Homo sapiens: one gene and its partners. The protein of the gene in region 1 interacts with the protein of each later gene in a pairwise test. Each region holds a gene or a part of one and is shown in the gene's direction. Other genes may lie near its edges.

Region 1 (7,024 bases):
CATAGTGGGCTCATGTAGTCAATTAACATTGACCATGAATGTGAATTCATCCAGTCCCTGCTTGGACCCAAGTGAAGGTCAGAGCAGTGGCCACCCTTCAGATTATTAATATAAGCTATCCTAGATACATTACTAGCAAAGCAAGCTGCAAAGTGTGTTTTTGTTCTTGAGAGATTTCAAACTTATGTCGTTCCAAATTCATGTTTCAGACAAGGCAGTACCAGATGGCAGTCATGGGGTCTGCAAGGAGCATAAGGGAAGGTACACCCTTAGGTGTAGTAAGAGAGGTGCACCCTCTATCGACTGTAGTTTTCTCCTTCTTGCTCACCCTCAGAGTCCATTCTGGATATTGTCATCAAAGCCACAAGAAAGGCTTGGATCAGTTCAAACTTCATGTGCATTCAGGTTACCTGGACATCTTATTAAAATGCAGATTCAAATTTCTTATCTCTGAGAGGAGACCTGAGTTTCTGCATTTCTGATGAGCTCCCACCCAAGTGATGCTGATGTTGGTGGTTTGCCAGCCACACTTTTGTGTAGTGTGGTGCTAGCTCAGTGCTTCTTAAACCCTAATGTGCACAAAACTCATGTCTAGATATGAACTTCTAGATGTGACTCAAGGAATGACCAGGGGCCATCAGCTTTGGCATTACCTGGGAGCTTGCTAAAAATGCAGAATCCAAGGCCCTACCTCAGACCTACTGAATCAGCATCTGTACTTCAGCGAAATCCCCAGGGGGCTCATGTGCACCGTAAAGCTTGAGAAACATGTGGAGCTGGCTTCACAACTTTGTTTATTTCCATAGAAATCTGTGGTTGGTTTAAGGCTGTGTTCTCACCACCTTGAAATCCTTATTCATGCTTGAGCAAAATATTCTGTGTTCTTATTTTGCACTGGGCCCCATAAATGATATAAGTTGTCCTAGACACACTGCTCCATATTAGTGGTTTTGAAACATTAGTGTGTGTATGACCCAACTGAGATGTTGTTATAAATTCCCAAATATTCTGAATCAGTAGACTGGGGGTGAGACTAAGAATCTGTAATAAACCTCTCCTGTGATTCTAATATAAGTAGTCCATGAGCACTTTGAAAGGTAGTCCCCAGATCTTCTCCAAGCTAGGCCTTCACTCATTTCCATGCTGTATCAGGATGGTGCCAGAGAGAGCCCACCTCTCATCTGCATTGCCAGAAAATGCAATGAGCTGCAAAAAACTTGTTGGACACCTGTGCCAAGGTGTTTCTTTTTGGGCAGTATTTCCCACAAGAACTCTCAGCAAACTATCCCTGTGCACCTAAGTGATCCTTACATAATGTTGAGACATTTACATAAGCAAAGCAGAAAGGATGCACAGTACAGGATGTCTCATGGGGACAGGGGGTCTCCTGAAGAAGCAGGTGTGTATAGTAGCACTTGTTAGAATTTTTATGGTCACAAACCATTTTGAGAATCCAATAGAAGCCATCACCCATCCTCAATGAAAAATTCACCTTTGCACATTATGAGTCTCACATAGTACCAGGAATTAGAAGACTTGACTGAGAGGTCTGACTTCTATACTTCTAGCTCTCATTCCTTGGACAAGTCATCAGGCTATTCAGAACCCTAGTGTCCTGATCTTTAAAGCAGAGAATGGGTAAGAGTGTCAACCTCATAAATTTGTTGCAAAACATCAAAGGAGACATTGAGCTGTAAAAGTGCTTTGTACACTGCAAAATAATGTATACATTTGAGACATCATTATACATCCTATGCTACATTGTTATTTCCAGCATTATAGTCAGGATCAGGACACTGCTTGTAAATTTAGCCTAAGGCCATGGAACAGACTTGCTGTAGTAAGAGAGGGAAATGAATACAGACAGAAAGACATGATGAGGACTTGGCGAGAGTTGCTGGGAAATTTAAAAGTGTAGAAAAGAGAAGGGAGATTCCACAATTCAAGGACTCCAGATGCAAAAATAAAAGAAAGAAAATCTATTTTTATATGTGCAGACAGTTTTGAGATTTTGGAAAGTGGCTTTAGTCTAGCAGTTAACCGAACATTTCTGCCCCTGGGTATAATGAAGATGAATAGCAATAGTGGTGGTCTGTATTTAGTTTTGACTGCAGAAGCCTTCTGTGGGAATTTGCTATTCTGAGATGAGAGGAATGATGTTTAGTAGTTAAAAGCTGGGTCTCTGATCTAACACATAATTATTGTGTGACTTGGAGAACTAGTTTAGTTTAGTTTCTCTGCTCTTCTAGGCTTTTTCCAATAAAAGATTCTTCATAGGGTTATTATAAGTATTGAATGACTTAGTGCACCCTAAACAGCTAGACATAACTATGAAGGATTATCATCACCCAAATCCTTGAGCAAAGGGAGAACTGGTAGTATTCGAAGTATCCAGCCATCCTGGGCATGCAAGGTACCTCTAGGTTATAACTGAGATCGTATTTGAAGTGGTTCTGTGCTCAAGTGGTTTGAGAAGCTCCGAGCAACATTCTGAGGCTGTAATCCCATAAGACCTTTGCTGTGTTCCAGAAAAGTCCACCCCTGACAAATCAAAGGAAATGTATGTGTTGGGGGAAGGGAGAAAGACAAGATATTCTAGCCTTGCCATGAGGACCTCCCTCTGATGGCTGCTGTCGTCTCTCAGTCCCTTGACGTACCTGTCTGGTCTTCCCTTCAGGTGCACTATTGACAACCGGGTCACCCGGGTGGCCTGGCTAAACCGCAGCACCATCCTCTATGCTGGGAATGACAAGTGGTGCCTGGATCCTCGCGTGGTCCTTCTGAGCAACACCCAAACGCAGTACAGCATCGAGATCCAGAACGTGGATGTGTATGACGAGGGCCCTTACACCTGCTCGGTGCAGACAGACAACCACCCAAAGACCTCTAGGGTCCACCTCATTGTGCAAGGTAGGTGGGCGGGGCTTGGCGGGGAGATCTGGCTGGCCAGCCTGGAAAGCCTTCAGGTAAAGGTTTGTTCTCTGATCCTCAACAGAGATGAGTTATCCTTATTCTACGCATCTGGGGTCCAGGGCACATTTCTGGTTGTCATTTTGCAGTTAGAAGCTAAATTTTCCAGTCATTTTCATTGAGTGGAACTAGGAATTGTTTTTTTCATTTTTGTTCCAATAATATATTTTCTCAGGAAATTATCTTGTAATTATTGCTCTTCTTGGCTTTTTTCTCCCCTAAGTTTTAGTTATTTTTGTTTGTTTGTTTTTTGTTTTGTTTTGTTTTGTTTTTTAGATTTCATCCAATTCCAAGACTGTGTTATGTTTAAAACCAGACTTTTAATGCACTTTTGGAAGTACAGGTATGCCATGTCCCCCTCCAGCCTTGAACGAAAGCAGAGCCAACCAGGATGCACTGGGCACTGCCCTCAGCTGCATCCTTCACAAGCACCTGCTTGTTTCCAGCTCACTTGCGCCTCCTCTCCTCTCCCAGCCAGGGGTTTTGGATGCCATTTCTCCCATATAATACTGGTGTCTGATTCTCCCTGTTTTGATTCCATCCCAACTCTCCTGGCCTTCTTCTCCTCCCCTGACTCCTAGTTCATGAGGCCTTGTATGTTTGTGTGTGTGTGTGTGTGTGTGTGTGTGTGTGTGTGTGTGAGAGAGAGAGAGAGAGAGAGAGAGAATATGTGTGTTGGTTATGCTCTCTTAGACCCTGGGAATGGAGCTCACCTCTTCCCACAAGGCAGAACCAGTCCTGGGGCATTCAGACAACACTTAACCCGGTTGAAGGATTCCTAGTTAGTGAGCAAGAGCTGGCATCACACTTGGCCACTTTCTGGCTGTGAGACCTTAATCAAGTTATTACCGTGTCTCAGGGTTCTCTTTCTGTAAAGGGGGTCAACGTGAGGATTGAACTGTAAACGTACTGACATAGAAAACACGTAGAAGAGGGCGTGGCACATACAAGTGCTATTTCAGTGTTAGCTATGGAGCTTTCTTTTCTCTTTTTTAGGACTTTTGTAATTTTTAAAATTTTTGAGCATCTTTTACAGTGGGTCAAATATCTTATTTTGTGATGTCAGCAGTATAGCCCCTGAGCAGCGGCATGCCAGATCCAGTGCTGGAGCCCTTTCCCAGGCTGATCCCGAGGCCCTTTCAACCAGGGACGTGTAGCTCCAGGGTGACAAACTCCTCTCCTAGGGGCTCCTTCCACCAGTCCCCTTGTCGGTGTGTTCAAGAAAAGGGTAAAGAACTATGGGATGATTGGTTAGAGACAGAATAGGAAGGAAGGCAGCTTGAGAAGGAAGAACTGAAGTGAGCCGGAAGAAGGAAGGGGAGGCCTGCTGTTTGACAGTAGGGGAAGGCGGAACTTGGGTCGTGATCAGCACTGTTGAGTGAGGCAGGGTGAGCAGGACTGAGAGGAGGACACATGAGAACAAGGTGATGCTGGACCTGGCTGTGGGCAGAACGTATGCCAGGGGACATGGGAATCCTTGATGCTGTGGCCCAAGTTTGGTCATGCCAAGTTTTTATTATATTTTGCTTACTCTTTCTTCCCCAAAGGAAATTACAATGGCTGTTTAAAAAATGATTCTATAAATGAATACTTTTTGAACTGATGCATGCAAACAGCAATTTTAAAGAAAATAGAATTGCATAGAAGGTATCAGAGTGTATTACAAAGAGTGGAGTAGGTATTGCCATGTGAGATTTTTGTTTCAGTTTGTGTACATTTTTTAATGTAAAATACATTTTTTATTATGGATAGGGAGGCCAAAAATGCTTGAGAATCTCCACTCTGTGGGCAGGGCTGGTGAATGCCCTGGTGCCACCATCTGCATACTCTACCAGGTGGTGGTTTGGAAGCTATTGCTCAGCCCCCCTCCTGTCCTGCCCCAACCCCTGCACACTTAGTGTTGAGAAAAGAATGCCTAGCATTGACAATGAGAGACTGGGAACTAGGAACTATTAGAGATATTTGCTTTAGGAAGCAGGGCCTCATGGAACTGGAAAGTGGAAGGAATTGTGAAAAGTGCTAATGTCTCCTTGAAAACTGGATCATATTTTTGTCATTTTCTTTCTTCAGCCACCCCCACTCACACACACCCCCACACCCCTGCCCTGAACACCTCGCAGAATGCCTGATACAAAGTGAACATTTAATAAATGCTTATTGAAGCAAATGGCTAGAATTAGAGCCAGGTGATCTTATATGGGCTCCAAGAGAGACGGCTGGGTGTTTTTGGGGGTGAGATGATGGGAGGGGGTGAGAGGATGGAGTCTACATCAATCTTCACTCACATCCAAGCTAATGGAAAATGTCTAATCCCTTGCTAGGTGTTTACATCTGTGACTTAGCTAGGTGCCCTCTCGCATGACACACCACCTCAAGTATTGGAATCTCATCTTGGGCTAATTTTCGAATGCTGATGGGTGTATTGATCTGGAAACAAGCTGGGTTAAAAAAGGCATTGGTCTTTTACACAGACTCAGCCCAAGCTAATCCGCTGTCGATATGCCTGGACTGAGTATTATCGACACTTTAATGAATAGAGGACCATAGTTTTTTCAGAGCCAAACTGACCCCCTCTTCAAAGCGATCAGACAAACTAAATAGAGCCAGATTCTTGTGTTTCTGTATTGGAAAGAGGATGCACCACCATCCTGGATTACAAAAAAAAAAAAAAAGGGAAAGAAATATATTTATCTTGGGATCGTTTATTATACCAAACATAAACCCTAATTCCCCTAGCAGAAGCTGACTCTCTGGATTTGAAGTTGCTATTCAGCCCTGAGCTTCTGGAATAAAAGTTGGGCATATTAGGTTTTCAAAATGGTATTATGATCCTTTAAAAAAAGAAATAAAAACAGCAACAACAAAAAGGAACTAAATTGATATTCTGCCCATGAGTATGTGTATTTATGTATATGTAGTCACCTTCATATCTAAATAAATCCACACAGAAGGAAGGTAGTGGCATCTCACAGCATTGCACAAGCTGCTTCAGGTCTGGGGTATGTCTTTCCCCTTACTGTCAAATATCCCATCTACCCCCTAGTTCTCTGTACTGGATTTTCTTCCCCTGTGGTTCTGATCCAATATGGTTATTTCTTGCAGACAGCCGTGAGGCCAAGGCGACCACATGGAGCAAGTCTCTGGGGCAAGCTAGGAGCAAAGGGCATCCTGGGGGAGGAGGGTGACCCTGGAGCCAGTGTGGGAGGGAGATGGAGGGGGAAGGCGGCAGAAAGGAGGAGACAAGAGAACTGAGCCAAGTAGCTACTTGCCAGGGTGGCTATTTTAAATTAAATTTAAATTAGCTACAACCAAACAACATTTAAAATTTACTTCTTCAGTCACACTAGCCACACTGCAGTGCTTCCATAGTCATGCAAGACTACTGTTCCCTTGTGTTCATTTTGCATTACTATAAAGGAATGCCTGAGGCTGGTAATTCACACACATAAAAAAGAGGTTTATTTGGCTCATGGTTCTGCAGCCTGTACAAGCACAGCACCAACATTTGCATCTGGAGAGGGCCTCAGAATGCTTCTATTCGTGGCATGGCGTGAAGGGGACCCAGTATATGCAGAATTGCATGGTGAGAGAAAAAGCCAGAGACAGCAGGGACGGTGCCAGGCTCTTTTTTACCACCAGCTTTCGAGAAAGCTAATAGAGCAAGAACTCACTTGCCCCACCCCCTGCATTTATCTATTTATGCTCCATCCCCATGGCCAGACATCTCCCATTAGGCCCCCACCTCCAATTTTGGAATCAACTTTCCACATAAGATCTACGGGAACAAATACCCAAACTACTGCACTCCTGTGTTGGACAGTGCAGAGAGAGAACATTTGTGTGAACTTCCATTGTAAAAAGCTTTATTGGATAGTGCTATAAGGGGTTACCATTATGGATCAGCAGGTGTTAAAGCTAGAATGGCTTTCCATGGCTTGAAGGGCTAGGTATATTGTGGAAAGGAGAGTGGAATTTTGGAAAGAGAATGGAAATTTTAAATAGATGGTGCTCTTTTAAAAACAAGAGAGAATTGTTGAAAAAGATGGAGTAATGG
Region 2 (7,024 bases), on another chromosome or scaffold:
CTTTTTGAAAGTTCTGAAAAGCATAGCAAATGAGAAACAGCTGCGACAACTAGGAAAGACAGGAGTGACATGAAGGCTTCTGTCAAATACATGTGGAGCCACTGTTTGGAAAAGATAGTTGGTTAGTTCTGAGACTCTGAGAACAAAGCTAGGAATGAGTGGAATTTAAAAGCACTTTTTCCAATTAGGGCCTCTCTAAAATAGAATGGGATGCCTTTAGGAGTGATGAGCCTCCTACTCATCTGTTCTTTTCAATTCAATGAATATTTATTAATGGCCTAACGTATTGCCATTCTTAAAGCTGGGAATACATCAGCGAAAAAAATAGACAAAAATTATTGCTCTGGCATCTATATTTTAGTAGGGGTAAATAAATAATAAAACAGTAATAAAATAATAAAAATAAAAAACAAATTAGCAGCATATATATTATATATCAGTATGTTAACATGTGAAAGAGAATGGGAAAAGAGTAGAATAAAAGAAATGAGGAATGAGAGGAGATAGGGAATGGGACAGGCTCAGTTACAAATATGATTGTTAGAGTAGGTCAGCCTCATTGAGAAGGTGACTGCATTAGTCAGGGTTCTACAGAGAAACAGAACCAATAAGATATTTTAGAGATATTTAGGAGAGATTAATTATGAGGGATTGGCTCACTCAACTGCAGACACTGGGAAGTTCCATGATCCACTATCTGCCACCTAGATGCCCAGGAAAGCCAGTGGTGGAGATCCAGTTCAAGCTTGCAGGCCTGAGAACCCAGGGAGTTGTTGGTGTAGGTCCCAGTCTGAGTCAGAAGGTGTGGGAACCAGGAGCATTGATGTCAAAGGGCAGGAGAAAGTGCAAGTTCCAGTTTCAGCAGAGAGCAAATTCACCCTTCCTGTGCCTTTGTGTTCTATTCGCGCCTTCAGTGGATTGGACGCTGCCCAACCACACTAGGAAGGAAGGATCTTCTCCTGTCTTCTACTGATTCAAATGCTCATCTCTTCTGGAAACACCCTCGCAGGCATATCCAGAAGTACATTTTGCTAGCTATCTGGGTATTCCTTAAGCCAGTCCACTGGACACATAGAGTTAACCATCACAGTGACATTTTAGCAGACTTCAGGGAAGGATGTGGGGTAGTGATCTCAGGGAAGAGCATTCCAAGGAGCAGAAAAAGCCATGAGAAGACCTGAAGCGGGGCTGTGAAAGCAAGGAGTATTCCCATGGAGTATTCCGTCTCTGAAATGCTTGAGACCAGAGGTGTTTCAGATTTCAGATTTTTTGGGATGTTGGAATATTTGTACAGACATAATGAGGTATCTTGGCAATGAGACCGAAGTCTACACATGAAATTCATTTATGCTTCTTATATACCTTACACACGTAGCCTTAAGGTAGTTATATACAATATATTAAATGATTTTGTGTGTTTTGACTGTGATTTGTCACATGAGGGAAGATGCGGAATTTTCTACTTGTGGCATCATATCAGCACTCAAAAAAGCTTTGGGTTTTAGATCATTTCAGATTTCAGGTTTTGGGATTAGAAATGTTCAACCTGTATTTAAGCAGAGCTTGGCAGAGCATTTCAGAGAGAAGTTGAAGAGAGAATTTCTGCTTTTGGTATAAACTAGAACTAGATAACCTCTGATGAGTCTTCCAACTTCACATTCCCTGAGTTTATGATCCTCTTGTAGCTGGGAATGATGAATTTGGTAGCAGCAAGCAGCATGGGTTCAAGACCAGAGGTGCCAGACCAAGACTCACAAATCCAAATGGTAAAGAGGCCAGACAGATAGTATAAACATTTTAAAAGATTGACAATACATTCAAATATTTTAAACTATTGTGTAACCAAATAAAGCATGTTTTCAGGCCAAAACTTGCCTAGTGGCCACCACTTTGAGACCGTTGCATTAGAGAAAGTAAAATCAGTTTGGTGTGTAATGGTGTAATACATATATAAAGTCTTAGGCAGGGAGTCAAAGGAGAATAAATGATAAAAGAAGAAATATGGGAGTCTTTGATGAGAACTATTCTTTGTTGTGATTTGCCAGGAAGCCAAAAGAAAAGAGACAATCAAAGATTACTTTGTAGTGTAGAGCCCAGGAGGCCAGTTTACAATGACTTTGCTCTTCCCCAAGCAAAAGTCATATTGCTTTTTTTCCACTGTTTCTATGGCTAGATACTGATTTGTCCTTTCATTGTCTTATTATACATAATTGCATAGCATTTAGGAACATAAAGTTCAGTTAGAGGGAGAAAGATAAACCAATGCAATGTTTTTCAATTATTTTGTGTCTACAGAGTAATTACAATTATCAAACTTTTTGGCAGAGGCTCAGAATGGACTGATAGTGATAATTACAAAGACACAGATGAAACCTTTATTCTTTTTGTTTTGATGTATGATTTGTCCTATTTCCTTACTGCAGGTGCTTTCATTTGCAAGATGGTGCCATTTGTCCAGTCTACCGCTGTTGTGACAGAAATCCTCACTATGACCTGCATTGCTGTGGAAAGGCACCAGGGACTTGTGCATCCTTTTAAAATGAAGTGGCAATACACCAACCGAAGGGCTTTCACAATGCTAGGTGAGGCCACTGGATGTGCCAATGGCAGTGTGAATGACATTCTTCATTACAGAATAGAGAACCATATTTTTAAACTAGAAGAGTAGCTTCTTATCTAACTTGTAGGCATTGGAATATAATTTGAGAGTTTCAGTGCTTTCCCTGTTTGCCTTCATCTCCACACCATCTCTCTTTTAGGCTGACCTCAAAACTGAAAATGTATCATTTTGGGTATACTTTTTCAGTTTACATCTTAAACGTTTAAGCACTATGTTCAGCTAATCTAAGATAACCTACCAGTGGCATTGCCACATTAACACTCATTAGATTGAGAACTATCTTTTTTTTTTTTTTTTTTTTTTTTGAGACAGAGTGTCAACTACATTGCCCAGGCTGGTCTCAAAAGTCTGGGCTGTGATTACAGGCATGAGCCACTATGCCCAGCTGGGAATTATCATCTTGAGATAAGAAGACTCCAAGCCAAGCTAACAAGGGCAGGTCGATTTTTTTTTCTTTTTTAGATAGGGTCTCATTCTGTAGCCCAGGCTGGAGTGCAGTGGTGTGATCACAACTCACTGCAGCCTCAGCCTCCCAAGCTCAAATGATCCTCCCACCTCAGCCTCCCAAGTAGCTGGGACCACATGTGCCCACCACCACACCCAGCTAATTTTTTTTATTTTTGGTAGCAACAGGGTCTCTCTATGTTTCTCAGGCTGGTCTTGAACTCCTGGGCTCAAGCCATTCCCCCTTGGCCTCTCCTTGTACTCCTTGGCCTCCCAACATGCTAGGATTACCGGTGTGAGCCACTGCACCTGGCCAGGCAGGTTGATAATGATAGGGAGCAGGAAATGTGGTTTTAGAAAAGTGGAGAACAGGGTTGCTGCCCTTGTGGTGAGTACACAAGGGTAGAAAGTGACAGGGTACATGAGAACAGTGGGTTCTGAGTGCTGGGGATGCCTGGCAAAGGCACATTCCACCCACTTCATACTTTTCCTTTAGGCATTTCTGGATCGTCAGCTTGCTGTAATTGTTCCTGAGTCAGCAAGTCACAATGAACACATACCTCATGATAAATGGTAAATTTGAAGCAATGCCCTAAAGTCTAACACAGTAAAATGGAAGCATTTCTCTATTCAGTAATTATAATTGAGCCATTTAAAACCTTAGTGTGCTTCACAGTAGTTTGAATTTAATATAGCAAATAATCAGAGGTGTAGCAAGCAACTAATGTGATAATCAAATAAAGCAATTTTTACTAATATCTCACTTGAGAAGAATGAGTAAACATTTATTTCTGCTGTAAGAATTTAGCCAGTATTGGGCTGTGGAATTGCAGAAAGAACCCCTGCAGGCTTTGCAATGCCAAAGTCATTTTAAATAGCTTGAAAATAATAGCTGAATCATTAGGGGAGAAAGGTGTTAGTTTTAGTTAGTTAGTTTTAATTTTATGTCATATCTTTCCTACTAAGAATTCAGAGATTTCTGGGCTTTTAATAATTGACATCTTTCCAACATCAGAACTCCTGAAAACAGCATGTGGGGATGGAAAGCAAGTAAGGAAAGGATTACATGGAGGAGGGGAGTTATTTAAAAGGAAAGAGAAGTAGCGCGAGTGACAACATCTCAAAGCATAGTTGATAATAGGCAGTCAAGGCAGTTCCTACTCAAAAGAGACATAGGAAACAAGAAGGTTTTAAAATCAACTAGACTCATCTCGCCATGGGGGCTTTTGTGAACTGTGGTCTAATGTCTCCTGTAGCTTTGTCACACTGTCATTCAGCCTTGTCAGTCAGTGTTTGTCAGTCACGCCCCATTCCTCCTTCCAGCTGAGATTGCCTAGACCTAGACAGGGGATGTCAAATCTTTTCGCTTCCCTGGGCCATATTGGAAGAAGAAGAATTGCCTTGGGCTACGCATAAAATACACTAACACTAACGATTGCTGATGACTTAAAAAATATATCGCAAAAAAATCTCATAATATTTTTTAAAAGTTTACAAATTTGTGTTGGGCCACATCCGAAGCCTTCCTAGGCCACATGCAGATTGGACAAGCTTGGCCTAGGTCCTCTAGGCTTTCTTGCCCAGATGTGGTCACTGTGTCAGTATTGTTCATCCAACTCTAGCCCTTCTATCTCAGAACCATCCAGGGATCCAGGAAGGTAGTCAATGAGCTATGAAAATTAGACTCAATTCCTCCAGAATTTGTACTAAAGCCCAGAAAAATGATTGGACATAAGATAACTATATGTGATTAAAATAGAACAGATGTGTATGGTAATAGGGAGGCAGAAAAGAGAAAGAGAAAGAGCGAGTGAGAAATAGAGACAGCCAGACAGACAGACTTGTGAGTCCTACAGCTGCCAGGTATCATTGGATCATGATGAATTTTTATAGGCAGCACCAAATTATGTGTTTCTTTATAATAAACCCCAATTATGGCTTAATTGAGTCATTGAAACCCAAAGCAATAAACTGTTTTCTTAATGTTCCACCCAATATAGAAAGAACAAGCAGAGTTCGAGCTGGAAACTTTTCCCCCAAATCAAAGTTGGGGCCCTTGGTTCCGTCCTCTTCCATGTCTGTTAAAACACACGGGTTGAAATTGTTCTTGGTAGTTAATCCCTGTTTTTCTTTTCTAAGAGTACATCATTAAAGCAATCCCTCTCAACAAGTTCGTGGAAGACAGGAAATTTGGAAAGAGCATTTTGGTTTCTGAAGTTATCAGTGTTTGTTTTCTTTTTTTTTTATTATTATACTTTAAGTTTTAGGGTACATGTGCACAACGTACAGGTTTGTTACATATGTATACATGTGATGCCCATGTTATGGTGCTTAAGATAAATGTACATTTGATTTTAAAAAGAGGTGACAGAGAGTGGTCTATGTCATGTTTAAAAGTTATTCATCCATTCCACCAACATGGATCAGCTCCTACAGAGGGCCAGGAATTTTCCTAGGACTCTTATTTGAGGAAACACAAAAATAAATGGCATTGTGTTTGCTTTCAAGGAGTTTGGAGGAAATTGAGAAGTGAGTAAGGGCAACGAAGACACTGCACTAGAGGGCATGTAGAGACAACAAGGAATTAGTAGTCAGTTTATTTGGAAATAGTAGTGACCTTCAAAGTTTCCCTAGAGAAGGTGATTTCTGAGTCAAGTCCTGGAAAATGAGTCCACAGATAGACACTGGGGATAGGGTGGCCAGGGAGTGGCGCAGTGCATTCTGGGATACGGAAACTGAAACCAGCACTGCAGGCTCCTCAGTAGAGGACTGCGGTGTGAAGAGCATGGACAGAAATGAAAGAGGAGAGAGAGGCAATTGAGATGGTAGAGAACCTCATGGGCCATGCTAAGGAAACTGGGTTTTATCTTGTAGGCAGTGAAACACTATTAAATGTTTAAAACTTGTTTTAGGAAGTTTATTCCAGCAGCAGTTTTGAGGATGGTGAAAGAGTGGAAGCATGAAACTTGGGGGAGACCATGGCACTGCCCTAGGGCAGAGAACAGCTGCCCTCTCATAGGGAATCTTGAGGGTTAGATAATTATGCATGGATGTGTTTTACTCAACTGAGTCATACTCTCATGACTTTAACACTTTTACAGGTGTGGTCTGGCTGGTGGCAGTCATCGTAGGATCACCCATGTGGCACGTGCAACAACTTGAGGTAGACTCCAGTTGAGATGTATAATCATATTGTTGAACTATTTTCTCACCCCTCTTAATTGTAATTATTTTCCTTCCTGCAGGAGCAATACAGCAAATTTGTATGACCTCAGCTATTCCACTGGAGGTCTTTTAAGTGGAATAAAATGATTTTTTAAGGTTCATTTTCTCTGTTTTATCTAGCTCTTCCTGATACATTGTTAGGACTCTAATGCTTAAAATACAATTTTTCAAAAATACACAGGTCAGTTTCTACATTTTCCTGCAAGCTGAGTATGCTTTTCCCAGTGTCCCTAAATGTTTTCTTACATTTTAAGAGTTGAATGATTGCTCTAGGTTTTTCTTTTATTTTTAAGTCACGTAAAAAAAATTGTAATAAATTATCTACTTAGTTGACTCTCAGAAGTCCTTTCTTACCTGCCTCCTATTCATTGACACATTGAAATTCTAACTGGAAACATATCAGGAGATCATCTTAATCAACCTCTCTCCTTTCCCCACACCTTTGTCAGACAGGCCCAGCCATGTGTGGGGCTTCACAGGAAGGAGAGTGCTGAGTTGGTTTCAGACAGCCCAGCCTGTCTGTTAGGGTGGACTTTAACATGTCTTGCATAGGTGATCTACCCAGACAGGAGTTTTCAAAGACGGTAGGGGGTTGCTTACATACCCCCTAAGATAAGTTTTAAATGATTTATCCCGTTCTACCTTTTAAAGTAGAGATAGGCAAATGTGAAACTTTACTGTCCATGTCATGTCATCCTCAAGGATAACAAATGAGCCTAAGATAAGAGAACATTA
Region 3 (7,775 bases), about 130 Mb from region 1:
GATCTCCAGGTTACTAATTTTGGACCACATTTCTCATTCCTCATTTTGCTTACCCAGGAGCAGCATTTGAATGAGTTCACCAGTTTCTTCTTGCACCTCTTCTCTTTTAGCTTTTATGATGCTTCACTCTCTGGGTTTCCTCCTGTCCCTCTGTCTACTCTTTCTTGGTGTCTTTTGCAGGCTCATCTTTCTCTATCCAGTCTTTAATAATGACCTCTAAAAGTCTGACTTGATCCTTCATTTGTTCTTATTCTACACACTCTAATTCTGTGGTTTGCATTACTTCCTATATGATCTGTATATTTAGCTTCCTAATGGAATTCTACTTAGGTATCTAATAGACATCTGAAACTTAATATGTCCAAAACAGAACAGATTTGATGGTGGGAGTTTCTCTGTGCTAGTTACTATTTTCTCTATGAAGTTGGAGTCTAGGTTGAGAGTGAAGAATGCTCTGTGTCTCTGTGTGTGTGTGTGTGTGTGTGTGTGTGTGTGTCAGGGTGGGAGAAGAAATTAGAGATTTTATGAGACGAGAAAATTTAAAAACAATATTGTGTAAAATGAGAGAAAGAAGGTAATCAGGGAAATTTGGTAAGACATCTACTCATTCTAAGCAGCACAGTATGAACAACTGAATTCTGATTTCCAAAATCCCTGACTTTGACTTCTGGCTCTTTCACCTAGTAGCTTTGTGGCTTTGGGCAAGTTACTTAAACTCTCTCTAAGCCATAGTTTTTTCATCTAAAATAGTGATCAACAATATTGGACCTAAATTCATGGTTCTTCATGAAGATTAAATGTACTTACAGGTAATGTGCCTTGAACATCATAGGTGATCATCAAATAGTTTATATTGAGTTACCAGAAACCTTATTCATTTTTTATCTCATCCTTCTTTCTCACCCTCCACATGCAAATTATCTTTAAATTCTGTTTCTACCTCCTAGATAGGTCTTAGATCAATCTTTTCCACTACGTCCATGACTTTAGGTCAAGCCACTACCATCTCTCACCCAAATTACTGTCATAGACTCCCAATTGGTCCCACCTTTTAAGTTGCTCCCCACACTAACTCCACTGCAATCTTTCCAAATCTTTCTAAATCTTAACAAATTTCCAATGCTCCCAATTCTTCCTTGCATGGCTTGCAAGAGTCTGCATTTGCTGCCTCATGAGATAGAAGGTGTATGATTTGTCTGTTGCTGTTGTAATAAATTACCATGAATGTAGTGGCTAAAAACAACACCCATTTATTAGCTCACAGATCTATTGGCCAGAGGTCTACACAGTGTGGCTGGGTTCTCTGCTCAGGGTATCAGAAATCAAGGTTTCAGCCAGACTGAATTCTCTTCTACAGACTCGGGGGAGGACTGAAGTCTCTGTTCTTTTGCTGGCTGTCAGCTAGAGACTGCTGTCAACTAGAGGCCACTCTCAGGGCTTGTCCTGTGCCCTCCTTCACCCTCGAGCCAGAAAACAGCCACCATTCGTTCCTTGCCACATTATCCCCTCCATCTTCAAGCTATCAACAGTGTGTTGAATTCTTCTCATTCTTCCAATCTCTTTGATTTCCTCTTCTGCTACCAGCAAGAAAAAAAGAACCCTTGGCTTTTAAAGAACTCATGTGACTTGGTTAGGACTAGCCAGATAATCTGTCTATCTTGAGATCAACTGATTAGTAGAATTAACTCCATCTGCAAAATCCCTTTTGCCATATAACATAATTGTGGGAGTAGTATCTCATCATATGCACAGGTCCATCCACACACAAAAGAAGATTATATAAGGGTGACAGTCATTGGTGGTCATCTTCTAATTCTGCCTACCCAAGGAGAGGAAGCCAGGGGAAATATCCCTGAAGAATCGTAGCTTGAGCTGAGATCAGATGGATGAGTAAGTGTTAACTAGGTAAGGAAGGAAAGAAGAAGCTTCCAGAGAGCATATGGAAAAGTCATGCAACTGAAGGACATATAGCAAAAAAAAAAAAAAAAAAAAAGAAAAGAAAAAAGAAAAATAAAAGAGAAAAAAGAAGGAGTGACCAAAAAAAGGCTAATGTGTTTACAGTGGAGAGAATAAGAATCATTGTGACTCTTATTTGAAATAATGTGATTTGAAATAATGTGGCTAGAGAGGTAAGTGGGAGCCAGGCCTCACAGGCTTTCTAAATTCTGTTAATATGTTTTCTCATTCCCAAAAGCAAAGGTCAAAAGAGTGGGATAGTCAGATTTGTATTCTGAGCATAGTACTTCGGCTTTAAGGTGAAGTATAGATGTAGAGAGGCATCAGTAAAATGTGGTGGCCCATTTAGGAGGTTAGGAGTGTGGTTCAAGAGTAGGGTAATATCAGTGGACATATAAGCAGGCAGATTCAAGGAACACTCAGTAGCTAAAATGAACAGGACTTTGTGATTGATTCAATATGGGAGTGATGTAGTTATGTTCCCCAGGAAGCAGACTCTCAAACAAAGATTACTGTGGAGGATGTTTACTAAGGAGCGTTCTTGGAGTTAACACCTGTGCAAGAGAGAGGATGAAAATAGGATTGGGCAAAAGGAGAAGCTGAGTAGTAATTCAGTCCCAGCAAAGACCTCAGTCAACCATATGAAGGGTTCTAGGGGTGTGAGCATCTTTCAGAGTTGTCCACCACTGGGTTGAGGGGATTAAACTTTTATACCTCTGTGCTGATCGGTCATTGGATATAGAATGCCCAAGAAAGGGAGCATAACCTTGGATGAGCTGGCTTTCTTCTGCTTAGGCAACTCCTGAAGGGTTATGACAGCTGAGGGCCATCTTTTAGGAGCACTCTCCACAGCTGGAAAATAAATCCTCCATTTTTGAAGAGGGTTCTGGGCTTTGCATCACAGCATCCAGCGCAGGGGTGAAGGAGCATAGGGGAGTAAGGCATCAATAATAATTCCTAAATTTCTGATTTGTACATCCTGGTGGGTGCACTTAACGACCATATATTACAATCATTGGCTTGCTTGGGAAAATCCCACTAGAGTAGGTGCTACTGAGGGGCAAACTATATTGGACAACTAGTGCATACCCCTAGAACTGGCATAGTTTGCTAAATAAGTGAATGTCCATCTATTTCTATTTTCACTCCCCTCTCCCTTACATCCTTTGCTCCCTTCCCTCCTCATCGTACTGTCATCCAATGTGGGAAAACTTGAGCAGGTTATCTGAGGCCCCACCTGTGCTGGAGCGGAACAAATAGCAAATCAAGCTCCTCTGGTCCAGGCTCTCTGATGGGCAAGACAGGCAGTACCAGGAGGAAGGAAAGGGGGAGCAGTTGATGACATCTCAGGCATAAACTGTCTTTCAACTCTCTTTCAATGCTTCAGCCCCTATAAACTCAGGGCTGGCTGAACCAGGTCCTCTCCAAAAGATTAATTGGATAAGGGCCTGCTGAATCCCCCATAAAGCCAGACTCCATTCTCTAATTTGCTCTTCCACTGATGCCCGCCCCCAACCTCTTACAGCTACTGCTGGGGGTCAGAAGAATTTCACATCGTATTGGAGTTCATCCGGAATCTGAAGAATGGATAGGAATCTGGAGATAGGAATCTGGAGATAGGAATCTGGGGAAGAAAAGGAATGGATAGGAGAATGCATAGGGAGCAGGGCTGAAATAGTAGAAGAGGCAAATCCTGCCCCGAGAAGCTGAACCCAGTTCAGTCCTGCACCCTTCAGCCCTGTTCCCGCTGCACCGCAGTGACCCAGTCCCCTTCTAGCCCCCTCTCGTGGGAACCTGACACCCTACACAGGCAGCTCTGCCTGCACTGAGAGCAAACAGGGAGCGTTAGCGTGTCGGGTGGGCGTGGGCGCTGCCTGGAGACGGTGGAGAAAGCCAACCTTCTCCTTCTCTTTTGCCTGCGCTGGGCCGGCGTTAGAATTATATCCCATCCTCACCTTACTCTGGTTTATCCTTGTCAGTGCTTGCCACCACCCCCAACTGCCCTCAACACTCAAGTCAGAAGCTTCCTCCCGGGAGCCCTTTTCCCTGGCAAGGCTTCCCTGGAGCCAAATCTCGGCCCCGGCCCCACCCCCACTCCCGCCCAGCTGTGGAGGGCTCCTTGGGACCCTTAAGTGCAAGCCTGAGTGTTAAGCCTCAGACAGGAGATGGAGGGTGCGGAGACAGATGCAGGAGCTACCCCAGGCCCGCAGCGAGGAGCTGCAGGGAACTACGGTAGCAATAGTGTCACGGTCACTGCGGCCACTGCAACACAGTACGGTAAATGCGGCTCTAGGCTCAGACTAAAGCATCCGCGCCTCAGCAGGTGACGCACGCAGACCTGGTCTCCAACGCCACCTCCACGTTCCCTGATACACCAGAGAAAGATGCTGGATCCGTGGCAGCCGTCTCTACCCAACCCCTCCTACCCTCCCTTCCCCGAAACCTCCCCCTACGCTGCCAATACTCTTGTCTTCAATCTCTCTCTCTCTCTCTCTCTCTCTCTCTCTCTCTCTCTCTCTCTCTCATTCCTGGGAATCGGGGGTGGGGGCGGGTGATAAAGAGAGGTGGGCAGGAGAGAAATCTCTAAGAGGAGACGGGACACATCTAGGGAGGGGGCGAGCCTGGAGGACAGTCGCACAGGGAGGGGCAGAACTCCCGAGCCAGGGAGGGGGTGCACAGTCACCTGGCGGGACAGAGGCTGGCGGAGGGACGGGAACCCAGGCGGGGCGAGCCGCGGGAGAGTGGAGGGCAGGCGCCTGGGCTGGGGGCGGGGACCAGGCGGGGCAGGGGGCAGGGAGAGGAGGGCGGCGGGAGCCTGAGCCGGAATCGCAGCGTGAGCAGGTGGAGCCGCGTTGGGAGCCCGCCGGGTCGAGCTGAGTAAGGCGGCGGGCTCGGCGGGGGCCATGGAGCTGCTAAAGCTGAACCGGAGCGTGCAGGGAACCGGACCCGGGCCGGGGGCTTCCCTGTGCCGCCCGGGGGCGCCTCTCCTCAACAGCAGCAGTGTGGGCAACCTCAGCTGCGAGCCCCCTCGCATTCGCGGAGCCGGGACACGAGGTGGGTGCCTCCCTCAGCCCCCCCCACAAGCTATTTCTCACTGTACCCCAGAACACTAATAGAGTCCCCCCAACGAGCTCCACACTACCTTCTCAAACGTCCACACCGTGCCTCTCATAGTACTCCCTCAGCCCCCAAACAGCTCCCCTCACACCTTCACCCCCACAGCCTACAACTTCATCACAGCTTCACACCACCTGGTCGGAACTCCTTCACATCCTGGTCCCCTGAATACACCTAGAGCCCCTGCTCACCCCAAAGCACAGCCCCTTCCCCAACACGCAGCCCCTCCTAGACACCAGTCAGAAGGCGAGGACCTCCTCTTGCCAACCCTGCAGATCTCCTTTTCCCTCTTACATCCAGTTCACAGAGCCACAACAGAGAAGGGAAGGAAGAAAGGAAGGCAGGACTGGGAAAAGAAGGGGGCTGGTTGAGGGAGGGAGCACTCTGGAAAGCTTGAATGCGAAGCTGAAGTTGTGATCACATCTGACACCCCAGCCCCCAGCCATCCCAAAAAAGATCCTCAAATCTGAATTAGGCTGGACACTAGGGGATGCTCCTTAGAGCTGCCTGCCTCCATTTCACTCCTTCTCAAACCCCTCTGCCTCCCTAGTTGGAGCTTTCGAGGCTCTGTGCCCTCTCTCTTTGTCTGCAAGTAATGTCTCCAGCTATCTTCCAAGCTCTCTCTCCAGCCCTAGGCTAGGTGCTGGGGGCACAGGGCAAACTAGACCCAGTCTGGACCCTCATGGCCCATAGCCAAGTGCAGAGAGAAACCAAGCAAATGGAAAAATCACAGACACAATGGAAGTCCCATGAAAGGGTCTAAACTGTGGGCACCAAAAGAACTTCACAGAGGCTAGAACCTTAGAGCTGGGTCTTGAAGTTGAGTAGGCAGAAAAGGAAGGAGTGGGATTCTAGGTGAAGGAGCAATGTTAAGCAGAAGGAAATTTTTCTAAACTCAAAAAGGGAAAGTTGGAATAAATTGTAATCCAAGTATTTATTTACCCCACGAAATAATCTATGCTTTCTCAGCCGAGTTGTTACACACTCACACTTGGATTCTGTCATTCAGCCAATATTTATTGAACCAGAGATTGTGCTAGGCAGTGGGAATGTAAGTTGAACAAAACCGACACAATTCCTACTTCACAGAGCTCAAAGTTTAATGGGCGAGACAGAAAAGCAGGGGATTGCAGCACAAAGTGGAAGAGCCTTGACAGGGAAAAGATAGTGGGAACACAAGTGGAACACCTCTAGCCCAGCCCAGCCTCCTTGAGAATTAAAGTTGGCCTCTTGAGGAAATGAGCTACAAAGTCAAAAAAATTAGGGAGGCTGGCTCTAAGCTTCCTGTTGGCAAAAAAAAAAAAAAAAAAAAATATATATACACACACACACACACACACACACACACACACACACATATACATATGGGAGAGCCAGCCAAGTGAACGGGCAGAAGAGGCAGAAAGCATCCCAAATAAAAGGACAAGATGTATAAGAAGCTCAAAGTTTGAATTCATGGCACTTTTATCCACTGTGACATAGTTTTGAGTGACTAGAACATATATCTTAAGAAGGGAATAATGAACAGGCTGGAGACCAGCCTAGAGGGTTTGCAGAGAGCCTGCTAGGCCTGACCATGGAACATGGACTTTCTCCCGAGGGCAATAGGAACTACTAAAAGATTCGGTAGTACTACCAGGATTAGTTCTATAATGTGGAGAACGGATTGGAAGACATAAGATGGAAGGCAGGGGGATACTTTACAAGGTTACTATATTACACTGTTCTGGGTGAAAGATGATGCTAGCTGAGACTAAGGTAATGGCAAGGGAGATGGAGAGAGGTGGATAGATTTGAGAGCCTCTTCTGGAAATGGAATCAACAGATTAGAAGCAGAGAGGATGGAAGAGGTCAAGGGATGACATTCAGATTTCTAACTTGGACAACTGAATGGATATTGGTGCTATAGCAATTGTATACAATGAGAAAGATAACAAAACAGCAGAAACAGGTTTGGAAGAGGGAATTATAAATTCAGTTTGGAACCCATTGAGTTTAAATGTTAGTGGGGCATCCAGGTGAGGTTACCTAGTAAGCTGTTGAATCCAGGGGTCTGGAACTTACAGGAGAGGTCTGAGGTGGAAATACAGACTTGAAGAAGGTCTTTGCCTACAGGATGTAGAAGCCCCGAGAATAGTTAAAATCATAAAATTTTGTATAGAATGAGAAGAAAATAGGTCCTAGGTCAAGACTCTGCATAAGACCATTATTTAAAAGCCAGGCAGAGAAAGGAGAATTTATGAAGGAGATTCAGATGAAACCATCAGAAAGGCAGGAGCTACGCCCTTCCAGAAAGCAAGAAAAAGAGAGTTTCAAGCAGGTTGGGGTAAGTGATATCAAATGCTATTGACATAAGTTACATAAATAAAAAACAGGACAGTCAGAACAGCATCCTTCACATTCAATAACAAGAAAATATTTAGGAGTTGTAGGTATTGAGGCTTGACTATGGTAGGTTAAAGATTGGACTGGTGAGAGAAGGAGTTATGAGAAGTGAACCAAGGTATGTAGCCAAAACTTTCAAGAAGTCTGGTAGGCAAAGAAAGAGAGAGAGAGAGAGAGAGAGAGAGAGAGAGAGAGAGAAAGAAAAGCAGGATATTGCCAAAAATAGCATGAGATTGAGGAAGGGGGGAGTGGGTATGTGCATAGGTTTGTTACGTGTGTGCGCGTGTGTGTGCACGCATTTTAAAACAAGAGCTTTT
Region 4 (7,335 bases), on another chromosome or scaffold:
GGATTACAGGCATAAGCCACTGTGCCTGGCCTCAAAGCACTTAATATATTTGTTTTATTTTTTTAAATTGGACTTAATATATTTAATTTTCACAACAGTCCTCTTAAAAATCCCACTTAGGGAATTAAGGATCCAGAGAGGTGAAGTCACAGGTATAAAGAGAAATAGGATATGTGGTAAGCCTGGAACTGGACTTTGGTTAAAAAAAAAGAGAGAGGAAATGGAGCAAGGATTTGAACCCAAGCTGCCTCAAGCTTCCAGGGACAGATGCCACATGACAGCTGCCTCTCCTGTTGTTCATCATCTGTAGATCCCCTGCTGCCTGCCCCCCACCGTCTGGGACAGCAGCTGAACCCCGTGGTGGCGCCGGCCTCTCAAAAATTCCGTTAGCATTTCCCTAGCCTGCCCTCAAATTTTATGACTATTTATTTATTTATCTGAGATGGAGTCTTGCTCTGTTGCCCAGGCTGGAGTGAAGTGGTGTGATCTCGGCTCACTGCAACCTCTGCCTCCCGGGTTCAAGCGATTTTCCTGCCTCAGCCTCCTGAGTAGCTGGGATTACAGGCACAAGCCACAACGCCCAGCTAATTTTATATAATTTTGGTAGAGATGAGGTTTCACCATGTTGGTCAGGGTGGTTTCGAACTCCTGACCTCAAGTGATCCGCCCGCCTCAGCCTCCCAAAGTGCTGGGATTATAGGCGTGAACCACCACGCCCGGTCTCGATCTTTGACAGGGATATTTGAAACTTTCTCCCAACATAAAGGATATGTGAGTGCGGACTGAAGAAGATTCTGGCTCTCTTTCCAATAAGGCTGCCTCTCACTAGTCGATCCTGGGTAGAAGTTCTGGAGCTGCCACAGCTCAGGGTGATGGCTTCATGTCACACTGGACCGCATCCCTCCTCGGCTCCACATCCTCCTGTGGCACCCACCTCACTGGGAGTAAAAGCCAGCCTTCTGCATGGCTCACAAGGCCTTCCACGATGTGCCCCATCACCCCTCCAATGTCGTCTCTTGCCCCTCTCCTCTCTCACTGACCTCCTTGCTATTCCTTAAATATTCCAAGCTTGCTCCTACCGCAAGACTTTTGCTTTTGCTGTTCTCTTTGCCCAGCATGCTGTTCCCCCAGAGGGCCATGTCACTCTTTCTTTCTCTCTCTCTTTTTTTGAGACAGAATCTCGCTGTCGCCCAGGCTGGAGTGCAATGGCGCAATCTCAGTTCACTGCAACCTCCGCCTCCCTGGTTCAAGCGATTCTCCTGCCTCAGCCTCCTGAATAGCTGGGATTACAGGTGTCTGCCACTATGCCTGCCTAATTTTTTGTAATTTTAGTAGAGACGAGGTTTCACCATGTTAGTCAGGCTGGTCTCGAACTCCTGACCTCAGGTGATCTGCCAGCCTTGGCCTCCCAAAGTGCTGGGATTATAGGCATGAGCCACTACGCCTGGCCGTTTTTTTGTTTTGTTTTGTTTTTTTGTTTTGAGACAGGGTCTCCGTCTGTTGCCCAGGCTGGAGTGTATTGGCAAAATCATGGCTCACTGCAGCCTCGAACTCCCAGGCTCAAGCGATCCCCCCACCTCTCAGCCTCCCAAGTAGCTGGGACCACAGGCGCACACCACCATACCTGGCTAATTTTTGTAGAGATGGGGTTTCGCTATGTTGCCCAGGCTGATCTCAAACTCCTGAGCTCCAGCGATCCACCTTCCTCAGCCTCCCAAAGTGCTGTGATCACAGGCGTGAGCCACCGTGCCCAGCCCTACTCTCTCTTCTCCTTCAAGTATTTGTTTCAAATGTCACCTTCTCAGAAAGCTTTCCCTGACCACCCTATTTAAAACTATAACCTTGACCCCACATTCCCCATGCCCCTTCTAATACATCCAATAATCTACTTACCTATTTACCCATTGCCTCTTACCCCCACTAGAGTGTAGTACACAGTCCATAAGGCCAGATTTTTTTTTTTTTTTTGAGATGGGGTCTCACTCTGTCACCCAGGCTGGAGTGCAGTGGTGCGATCTCAACTCACTGCAGCCTCCGCCTCCTGGGTTCAAGCAATCCTCTCACCTCAGCCTCCCGAGTTGCTCAGATTTTAGGGGCGCGCCACCATGCCTGGCTAATTTTTGCATTTTTAGTAGAGATGGGGCTTCACCATGTTGTCCAGGCTGGTCTCAAACTCCTGGTCTCAGGTGATCCACCCACTTCACCTCCCAAAGTGCTTGGATTACAGGTGTGAGCCATTGCGCCAGGCCGAGATATTTTTGTCTGTATTGTTCATTGAGGTATCCCCAGTGTCTAGCAGTGTTGGGCACATATATAGTACATGCTTAAGAATTATGTGCAGAATGATTAATTTGTGTTTTCATTCCCATATTGCAGATGCAGTAACTGAGGCGCTGGGAGGTTAAGTTAGTTGCCCAAGATCATGCAGTTTTTTTTTTTTTTTTTTTTTTTGAGACGGAGTCTCGCTCTTGTTGCCCAGGCTACAGTGCAATGGCACGATCTAGGCTCACTGCAACCTCCGCCTCTCAGATTCGAACGATTCTCCTGTCTCAGCCTCCCGAGTAGCTGGGATTACAGGCATGTGCCACCATGCCTGGCTAATTTTGTATTTTTAATAGAGATGGGGTTTCTCCATGTTGGTCAGGCTGGTCTCGAACTTCCGACCTGAGGTGATCCGCCCGCCTCGGCCTCCCAAAGTGCTGGGATTACAGGCGTGAGCCACCGCGCCTGGCCTATTATTATTATTTTTTTTTGAGACGGAGTCTCGCTCTTGTTGCCCAGGCTGGAGTGCAATGGCGCGATCTCGGCTCACTGCAACCTCCACCTCCCCGGTTCAAGCCATTCTCCTGCCTCAGCCTCCCGAGTAGCTGGGATTATAGGCATGCACCACCACGCCCGGCTAATTTTGTATTTTTAGTAGAGACGGGGTTTCTCCATGTTGATCAGGCTGGTCTCGAACTCCCGACATCAGGTGATCCGCCCACCTTGGCCTCCTAAAGTGCTGGGATTACAGGCATGAGCCACCGCACCCGGCCGAGGGTGACATGGTTAATAACAATATTAGCCAAAAACACCATGTCAAGCTGAGCCTACCACAAGAATAAACTCACAGAATCGTCACACTCAGCCCTGATGTGGATGTCCCCGTGTGCATTTTGCAGATGAAGCTGGGATTGGAAAGGTGCCATAAGGCAGTCAAGGTATCCAGAGGTGTAGTGGTGGGGCTGGGATTCTGACACACCCCAGGTAATGGGCTGCAGTACCCCGTATGTTATGTGAGATGTGACACGGGGAAATGACGAAGACACGGAGGGAAGAAAAATAACTGTAAGGCTGGGTGGCTCCTTATGGGGAAAACTGGAAGCATGAGGAGTGGATGGTGACTGGTCAGAGGAACAGTGATGCCAAGGGAGGGACAAAGACACAAGGGGTAATGATGACGTAAGAGTTGCATTAGCGCGATTTAAGAAGAGCGATGGGGACAGTAGCCATGCGAAGGTGACTTGGGGGTATGATGAGGGTTTAAAGAGAAATGAGGATTTTATAAAGGAGAAATGGCAACAAAAGCAGGATGCAGGTAACATATGGCGATGACGAATTTAAAGGGAGCGATTACGACCTATGGTGGCAAAGAGGGCTTACAGGGAACGAAAGCGAGTTAAGGGCGTTGATGACAACAAGAGGAGTTGTGAGGATTTAAAGAGGGTGATGGCGACAGAAGGAGTTGTGAGGATTTAAGTGGGATGAGACAGAAGGAGAGGAATGGTGACATAAAGAGACCGAGGACGACATAAATTATAGCGTGGAAGACAACGCTATAATTATATATATTATATTCCATATATTATATTCCATATAATATATATTATATTCCATGCATTATAGCGTGGAAGACAACACGAGGAGGGTAGCCGAGGCGCCGCGCCCCCAGATCGCACAGTACCTGCACTCCACGTCTCCCACTCCGAGACCCAGCCCCACACGCACCTTCCAGGCTGTATCCCCGCCTGACGGCCCCTCCTAGCCGCGCGCAGGCGCACTACGGCTAGACTGCAGGCCGGCGGGGGCCAGGCATGCGCCTTTCTCATTGGCCGCGCCGCTTGCTAGCTTCGGGCGGAGGGGAGCGCCGGGCCGACGGTGGGCGGTCACGTGACGGTTACGACTGCACTCTCGCTGGTGTCGGTGGGCGGTCACGTGATGGTTATGGCCGCACTCTCGCTGGTGGCGGCCTGTTGGGGTAGAGCGGCCGCGGACGAGTCAGTTCAGCTTCCGGCGGTGAGAGGATGCTTCCGGGGCGGGCAGCCCGGGCCGGGGGAGGAGTGTCTGACAGTTGGCGCCGCCGGGAGGGAGGGCGGGCGGCGCGAGTGGGCGCGGGCCCGGTGGGCCAGGTGAGGCGCGGGCCGGGGGTGGTGGGACTGGGCCGGTTGCGGTAGGGACGGGTGGCGTCCGGGTGTCTGGACTCAGTTCGGGCTCCGTTGTACGGCTTCGGACTTACGATTTGTTTCTTTGAGCCTCAGTTTCCTCCCCTGTGGAATGGGGGTTAGAATCCGACTGTATCACCGGCTTTATAAATGGGAGTGAGAAGTCAGGTCGTGTACGTTGGATGCCTTAGCTCAGCGCCTCCGCATAACGCTCACTTCGTTACTATACTATTATTATTAGTATTGATGTTTGAGCGCTTAGTATGAAAAATTGTTGGGTTTGGAAGCCGTCGAATTTTGGTTCAAGTCCCGCTCCACTGTGCGGCAGTGGGGCCTGTGTCTTCGCTTCCTTGAACCCCGTTTTTTCTCATCTGTACAATGAGAGCAGATAGTCCCAATATCATAGGGTCGTCTTGAGGATTCTGATGAAATCTGTGTGTGTAAAGATTTTAAGCAGAGGGGCTGGCACAGTGAGAGCTCGTGGATTGGGACTATAATGATAATGATTCTGAGAGTCATTGGTGTAGCTGGGAATTCCAGGGAAGCTGGGGGAGAAAGCTCAGAGACAGCAATAGGAAAAACTTAGAATTGGAGCCGGGGAAATCGACATCCTGTCACTTACTATTTGACCAATTTTGCTGAGTCCTGAAGTACTAGTTTTTTTCTTTTTCTTGATAATGACTAGTGCATTTTTTTCCCCAGTAAGTTAATTTGAGAAGGCAAATTTGCATTGCTGTCTTCTTCTTTTTTTTTTCTTTGAGACGGAGTTTCGCTCTTGTTGCCCAGGCTGGAGTGCAATGGTGCAATTTCGTCTCACCGCAACCTCCGCTTCCTGGGTTCAAGGGATTCTCCTGCCTCAACCTTCCGAGTAGCTGGGATTACAGGCATGCGCCACCACGCCCGGCTAATTTTTTTTGTATTTTAGTAGAGACGGGGTTTCTGCATGTTGGTCAGGCTGGTCTCGAACTTCTGACTTCAGGTGATCTGCCCGCCTCTGCCTCCCAAAGTGCTGGGATTACAGGTGTGAGCCACCGTGCCCGGCGCATTGCTGTCTTCAATGGAAAACTAGCATTGCTGGCCATGAGAGGAAGGAAAAGTTCAGGTAAAATACAATGGAAACTGAACAGCCCATTACATTGTACACTGAAATGGAAAGATAATTGAAAAGGAATACTACGTATTCCCTTTGAATAGGGATACTGTTCAGAACCTGTACTGTGTGATTCCCTGTTGTCAGATCCCATGGACCCCCATTAAGTTGTCCTTATACTTGTTCCCAGCTCACACTTTGTATAAAACTAGCATTAAGTCAGTGACTGTCCCACTGTTTCCCTAGCTTACTGAAGATTTGTTTTATTTGATGCACACTTAACATCGCACTTAACCACCTGCCGTGCATCTTTGTTCTAAGGACTCTGTTTATTAACTCGTTTAATCCTTGTAACACCTTTAAGAATGGGTCCTTGGCTGGGCGTGGTGGCTCACGCCTGTAATCCTAGCACTTTGGGAGGCCGAGACGGGCGGATCACGAGGTCAGGAGATAGAGACCATCCTGGCTAACACGGTGAAACCCCGTCTCTACTAAAACTACAGAAAATTAGCCGGGCATGGTGGTGGGGGCCTGTAATCCCAGCTACTTGGGAGGCTGAGGCAGGATAATTGCTTGAACCTGGGAGGCAGAGGTTGCAGTGAGACGAGATCACGCCACTGCACTCCAGCCTGGGCGACAGAGTGGGACTTCATCTCAAAAAAAAAAAAGGGTCCTCTTTTTTTTTTTTTAAGATGGTGTTTTTTTATTTTTATTATTTATTTATTTATTTATTTATTTATTTATTTATTTATTTATTTGAGACAAGGTCTCGCTCTGTTGCCCAGGCTGGAGTGCAGTGGTGCGATCTTGGATCACTGCAACCTCTGCCTCCCGGGCTTAAGCAATTCTCCTGCCTCAGCCTCCTGAGTAGCTAGGATTACAGGTGCCCACCACCACGCCTGGCTAATTTTTGTATTTTTAGTAGAGAGGGGTTTCACTATGTTGGCCAGGCTGGTCTTGAATTCCTGACCTCAGGTTATCCACCTGCCTCAGCCTCCCAAGGTGCTGGCCAAGAATTGGTAATCTTACTTTTTTTTTTTTTTTTGAGATGGAGTCTCACTCTGTTGCCCAGGCTGGAGTGTAGTGGTACAGTTTCGGCTCACTGCAACCTCTGCCTCCTGGGTTCAAGTGATTCTCCTGCCTCAGCCTCCCGAGTAGCTGGGATTACAGGTGCCTGCCACCATGCCCAGCTAATTTTTTGTATTTTTAGTAGAGGCGGAGTTTCGCCATGTTGGCCAGGCTGGTCTCAAACTCCTGACCTTGTGATCCACTGCCTTGGCCTCCCAAAGCGTTGGGATTACAGGCATGAGCCACTGCGCCCAGCCACCTTTCCTTTTTTTTTTTTTTTTTTTGAGACTGAGTCTTGCTCTGTTGCCCAGGCTGGAGTGAAGTGGCGTAATCTTGGCTCACTGCAACCTCTCCCCCCCCCGCCCCGGGTTGAAGCGATTCTCCCACCTTAGCCTACTGAGTAGCTTGGATTACAGGCATACACCACCATGCCTGGCTAATTTTTGTATTTTTAGTAGAGATGGGGTTTCACCATATTGGCCAGGCTGGTCTCGAACTCCTGACCTCAGGTGATCCACCCGCCTCAGCCTCCCAAAGTGCTGTGATTACAGGCGTGAGCCACCACGCCCAGTTTTTTTTTTTTTTTTTTTTTTTTTAACAGTGACAGGGTCTCGCTATATTGCCCAGGCTGGCCTCAAAATCCTGGGCTCCAGAGATCCTCCTGCTTCGGCCTCCCAAAGTGCTGGGACTACAGGTGTGAGTTACTGTACCCGGCCTTACCATTCTTATTGTGCAGTTGAGGGAAGTGAGGTCAGA

What was found.
Region 2: the proteins of NTM (region 1) and QRFPR interact in binary tests that used the Homo sapiens proteins (3 or more experiments, as listed by UniProt).
Region 3: the proteins of NTM (region 1) and CCKBR interact in binary tests that used the Homo sapiens proteins (3 or more experiments, as listed by UniProt).
Region 4: the proteins of NTM (region 1) and C19orf47 interact in binary tests that used the Homo sapiens proteins (3 or more experiments, as listed by UniProt).

What each region holds. Positions count from the first base shown.
Region 1 is NC_000011.10:132,143,605-132,150,628, forward strand, and holds part of NTM (neurotrimin isoform 9 precursor), read left to right. Parts: intron 1-2,677; coding exon 2,678-2,910; intron 2,911-7,024.
Region 2 is NC_000004.12:121,336,010-121,343,033, reverse strand, and holds part of QRFPR (pyroglutamylated RF-amide peptide receptor), read left to right. Parts: intron 1-2,423; coding exon 2,424-2,582; intron 2,583-6,165; coding exon 6,166-6,227; intron 6,228-7,024. UniProt on the Homo sapiens protein: Receptor for the orexigenic neuropeptide QRFP. The activity of this receptor is mediated by G proteins that modulate adenylate cyclase activity and intracellular calcium levels.
Region 3 is NC_000011.10:6,255,070-6,262,844, forward strand, and holds the start of CCKBR (gastrin/cholecystokinin type B receptor), read left to right. Parts: upstream 1-4,768; 5' UTR 4,769-4,859; coding exon 4,860-5,010; intron 5,011-7,775. UniProt on the Homo sapiens protein: Receptor for gastrin and cholecystokinin. The CCK-B receptors occur throughout the central nervous system where they modulate anxiety, analgesia, arousal, and neuroleptic activity.
Region 4 is NC_000019.10:40,345,377-40,352,711, reverse strand, and holds the start of C19orf47 (uncharacterized protein C19orf47), read left to right. Parts: upstream 1-4,314; 5' UTR 4,315-4,388; intron 4,389-4,422; exon of another isoform or gene 4,423-5,523; intron 5,524-7,335.